Linked DNA regions of Homo sapiens: region 2 is linked to region 1. Evidence: fine-mapped expression QTL. Tissue or cell type: whole blood. Region 1 holds a variant in brackets; the other region holds the start of a gene. All regions are shown on one strand. Distances are from middle to middle.

What was found. PIP is the estimated chance that this variant, and not a neighbour inherited with it, causes the effect.
Region 2: it holds the start of HPS5, and the variant in region 1 is fine-mapped to the expression of HPS5 in whole blood (TOPMed, PIP 0.92).

Annotation. Positions count from the first base shown.
Region 1 is chr11:18,282,717-18,285,216 of GRCh38, reverse strand. HPS5 (HPS5 biogenesis of lysosomal organelles complex 2 subunit 2) reads left to right here. Exons shown (of 23, transcript NM_181507.2): 21 at 1,316-1,422. Among named protein-coding and RNA genes, the nearest start is that of SAA1, 18 kb to the right of the region's middle. RefSeq lists an enhancer at 2,465-2,500. The variant G/A (reference allele first, on the strand shown) is at 1,409.
Region 2 is chr11:18,320,790-18,323,538 of GRCh38, reverse strand. It overlaps HPS5 (HPS5 biogenesis of lysosomal organelles complex 2 subunit 2), which reads left to right and starts at 1,399. Exons shown (of 23, transcript NM_181507.2): 1 at 1,399-1,593. It overlaps GTF2H1 (general transcription factor IIH subunit 1), which reads right to left and starts at 972. Exons shown (of 15, transcript NM_005316.4): 1 at 799-972. RefSeq lists enhancers at 995-1,414, 1,425-1,724, 615-1,814, 952-1,901.

The DNA.
Region 1 (2,500 bases):
TGTTTTAAGTGATAGTAAATTAAACATCTTTTTTCCATTTAAATTTCTTGCTTTTTTCTTTTTTTTTTTTTTTTAAATAGCCTTAGCTAATTCCCCTCCACTCCCTCTGCTTAGTTGCCAGCCCCAGTTCTCAGGCATGTAGATAGTATTTAATTAAGCACCAGATTATGTGATACCAATTATAATTGATAGACTTTTATAATTAATACAGTAAGAGAGAGATCAAAATGGGCTCAATAGCATCGCTGGTGAAGGACTCAAGGAGGAGGTGAGATTTTGGAGGTAAAACCTAAAACCTGGGTAGGATTTGTATTTATAAAGGAGCCAGGAGAGGGTGAGTTAGGTGAGAGAAACAGAGCAAGGGCGTGGAAAACTGGCATTGCTTATTATCCATGTCACACTTCAGTCAGTTATTTATTGCCTGGTGATACTGGCTTATGGCTCCAACTGGATTATAATCTTTTGGAGATAGCAACTTGTGTCTTTCTTTTCCCTCATAATGTCTATATCTAATTTGTATAGTGGTAGGCACTTGATACATATTTGTTCATTGTAATGAGGGCTGAGTCTGGCCAGGTGGTGGGTGACAAGATCATGCAGGACCTTGAAAGCTGGTAGAATAATTTAGTTATCAGTAGAGACCCTTTTAGACTGAACTACTTGGTGCAAAAATTGTGTAATGAAAGTGGAGCTTTCTAGAGATCATTTCTGATGTCATATATGAGAAGGCTGGAGACAGAAGGCCAGCTAGGAAGCTGTTGGAGTAATTCAGATATGAGTGGATTGGTGATTAGTAGGGCAGCAAAAGGAGCACATCCAGTGGGCATTTCAAAGGAAAATGCAGTGGGACATGCTGATACTGGATATAGCAAATGAAGGAGGGGGAAGAGTCAAGGAAGACTTCCAAGGTTTACATATTTGGAGAAGAAATATGCTAGGTTTGTGTTGAATTTTAAAGTTTATAAATTGAATAAAGCTTAAATGCCTTATAATTGGAGCTTGGCCTCAAATGTCAGCATTTGTTGCTAGGTTTTTTGTTTTTTTTTTTTCCCTAGATCAGGGTCATCTAATAGAACTTTCTGTGATAGTGGAGATATTCTACTGAACTGTCCAATGGTGGCCACTAGCCACATGTAGCCATTGACTACTTGAAATGTGAATATATTAACTGAAAAACTGACTTTCAGATGTTATTTACTTTTAATTAATTTAAATTGAAATAGCCACATGTGACTGTGTCTACTGTTTTGGGCAGCACAGCTCCAGATAAATTCATGGCCTTTTATTCCTTTCTTCAACTTCGGTCTCTTTAAAGTTTCTGGCCTGGATATCTAATTCTCTGTTTGGAGCTGGAGAGAAGAAGAGAGGCCTTCACCAATATTGTGTATCTGAATGATATGAGCCTGAT[G/A]GAAGGGGACAATGGTATGTCAATCCTAACTGGTTACTCTTGGTTGTCAATTTTTAGAAGTTACTCCAGACCTCTCAACAAAAAAATTTGGTGAACCTTTCAATGATCATATATTTAATATGTGATTCCACTTAGTTGTCACATTTGTGGAGTTTTTGTTTTTGTTTTTGTTTTTTACCTATAGCCCTTGATATGTTATGAAATCACAATTAAGAATAAACTATAGGCAACTTTTCTATTTCATGAGTGCCTACTATGTGTTAGGCACTATACTGTGTGCTTTCCATATGTTGTTTTAAATGAGATAACAAACTCTGGGGATAGTTACTATTATTTCCACTTTCCAGATAACTGAGGTACAGAAGGGACAGTTAATTGGCCCAAAGTCACACAGCTACTAATTGTAAATGCTGGAGCTGGGGTTCAGACCAAGGACTTCCTCCAAAATTTGTGCTTAGGCTCTTTTTTTTTTTTTTTTTTAATTTCCCATTAATTAAAGATGATTCTGGCCAGGCGCGGTGGCTCACGCTTGTAATTCCAGCACTTTCAGAGGCCGAGGTGGGCAGATCACCTGAGGTCGGGAGTTTGAGACCAGCCTGGCCAACATGGTGAAACCCCATCTCTACTAAAAATACAAAAATTAACTGGGCATGGTGGCTTATGCTTGTAATCCCAGCTACTTGAGAGGCTGAGGCAGGAGAATTGCTTGAACCTGGGAGGTGGAGGTTGCAGTGAGCTGAGATCGCACCACTGCACTCCAGCTTGGGCAACAGAGCAAGACTTGGTCTCAAAACAAAAAGGAAAAGAAAAATTCCTTGAATTCGTCAAGTTCTTTCCTGTGTCACATTGTCTTCCATGTTTCCTTTATCAGAAATGCAGGCCCCTTATTTCTGATGGCTCCTACTCCAAGTTTTCACATTATGTGGGCCCCATGCATATGTCCTCTAAGCTTGTCTCATCTTTTAGCTTTCTGCTTCAATGTCACTTCCTCATAGAGCCCTTCTCAGATCTTCCAGGCAGAATCAGCCATTCTCTCTGATGCTTCCTTGTTCTTTTTTTTCATAGTGCTTAGCATACTTTATAAGTATATAC
Region 2 (2,749 bases), 38 kb before region 1:
AAATGGACAAAGGGTGTATTTTTCATATCTTCTTTCCCCATCCCCATTTTACTGATGCTAAAATTGGAGTTTAGGAGTCATTTGGGGCCAGGCACTGTAGCATAATTCTGGCGCTTTGGGAGGTCTAGGCAGGAGAATCGCTTGAGCCCAGGAATTCGAGGTTACAGTGAGCTATTATCACGCCACTGCATTCCAGCCAGGACGACAGAACAAGACTCTGTCTCTTAAAAAAAAATAAGAAAAGTCACCTCCTTATTTAATTTGGCCTTTGAGAACACTGGGGGATTTACAAAATAATTACATATATCCAGGTACTCATGGTCTATTTTTCATCATTACACGACAATCAAATGACCAAAACTAGGAGTGTGTGGACTGGCACGTGTTAAGGTTTTTAAGAGAGGTAAGATTGACAGGTGGAAGCAAAAGGTGTGCAGACAACAAGGTGACAGCTTTTCTCTTACAGAATCCCAGACTCAACAGCACATTTCCTGACGGGAAGGGCTTCTCTGTCTGGGAGAGGCCTCCACTTCATTCTCATAAGCCAAATCTGATCCTGGCTTTGGGTAAACCTGCTCTCAATTTAAGAGCAGGTTTCCTTTAGACAAGTAGATTAGGGGTCGCCTCTTCCTCGCCTCGGGATAAGGGCAAACAAGACGCCAGGCTTGGGCGTTGGGAGGACGGCGACAGCGACGCTGGGAACAGGGGTAGAATCCACGCCGTCCAGCGGCCCCCAGGCCTGTCAGCTCCTCACCCGCCCACCCACCCGCCCGCCTGCATTCTTCGGTCTAAACTTACCAGGTGGAAGCTACAACTCTAGACAGGAAGTAACTAACTGGGTTGGATCCGGTCGAGTTCCGCTGCGCTTCTTAGAGCCGCTGCTGGGAAGAGGCCGAAACCCAGTGGCCGCAGCAGTAGCCACCGCCTCTGTTACTAGGGGGTCTCGCCTCCATCGCTGGCTGCGAGGAGTCTGAGGGCACGTGACCGGAAGTAGCAAGGCGGGCCCTGGGCACGTGACTCAAGAGCGCGGCCGCCATGACACCTTCCGCTAGTTCCCTCCCTCCCCCACGGGTTCCCGCCTGTTTCGTTTCCTCTCTCCGGTCTCGAGCGGCGAAGGGTCCTGGGATCCTGGCTGGCCCAACCATTTGGCCTAGAGCTCCTCCGGTTCCAGTCGGCGCCGTGTCTCCAGCCCGCAACGGCCCTGCGGTCGCAGGCCGTAGAGAGCGTAATCGCGACCGCGGCCTGAGGGGGAGGGACCACGCGGAAGGAGGGGCGTGACTCGTCACGTGATGAGGAAGTGCCGTTAGTAGCGTTGTTTCCAGTCTGCGGCTCTCCTGGATGACGTCAGCAAGGAAGGGGAGGAACGCGAGGGGAGACTGAAGTTCACGTTCCGCTCTTAGTGCGCGGTGAGTTCCCCGGCGCTAAGCCGGGAGACAAGATCCGATCTACTGAGAGCTGCGAGGTACTGCCCTGGATGTGGTGGAGCTGGGCTGGGACCTCCGGGCTGCTGGTCTGTGAGCCTGGCTTTGAAAATTGGTTACTGGGTCTCCTCTCAAGAAATCTCAAGATATTAAAGTTACTGCTGTTAAAAAGGTAGTAGTTCCACTAGGCAAGGAGCTTTTTGTGGGTAGGGATTGTGTTTTGTTCATCCCTGTGTCTCTAGCGGTGTGTTCAGGTCCTGGAACATAGTAGGCACTCAGAATGTTGAATGAATGAATGTATAAATGAGTCAGTCGCCATTTGTCTGAGGCAGAGAGTTGTTTTCTGATCATTTCTTCTTGGATAGAAAGATCCCATTGTGAAAATGAGGCAGTCTGCAACTTCCCCTTCTCATTTCTTCAATTTTTGCTATCTTTCTTACTTCTTTCTCCTCTTCCTCCACGCACCTACTGGGGCAAAAGAGAAACATGTTTGCATTTGATGTGTGAGCAACAAACACTGAACTATTTTACGATAATGGAAAGATGAGATTTGGATTCAGGAGACGCGTATTCTAATCTCAGCTCTACCATTTATGAACTCTGTGATCCTTGGGCAAGCCAGTCTCCCAAAAGTTGTTTCATTTACTTTGGTTAAGCATTTGTCGCCAACTTCTATGTTCTTAGTTTTTGGTAGAGTGCCTTCACAGAAGTAACATTTAAACTCAGCTTTGCAGAAAGGTAGGGTTTTGGTAAATGGGGGAAGATTCCATAAACATCATATATTAAACCATGGAGGCACAGCAAGTTTATGGAATGAAAAAGAAAAAAAGAGTCGAGTCCAATGTAGTTGGAGAATAGAGAGGTTAAGATGGGAAATAAGGCTGGAAAAAGAAGCAGGGAGGAGATAACAGATTTTCAAGAAATAGAGCTGTTGAAGGCTTGTACAATATTATGTATATATTTTTTAAATTTTATTGTGGAAAATTTCAAACGCAGACAAAAGTAGGATAATAAATTGAACCCTCATGTACACTTAACGCAACTTGAACAATTATCAGCATTCTGCTGTTCCTCTTTATACTGTTTGTACATTTCTAGGTACTTTTTATATCCATTGTTGCATTTGATTAATAGCAGCTTTCAATTTGAGCTCAGTTCTACTGTATGTAGCTACTGGCTAAGAAGATTTTATTTATGTAAACAATTTCTTTGGGTTTTAGTTGACCACTTGCTCTGTTGAATCAATGTGTAACATGGCCACTTAAACACAACTAATACTGTTTTTAGGTTGTAATATAGAAACTTAGTGTCTAGATCCAGGAAGTTAG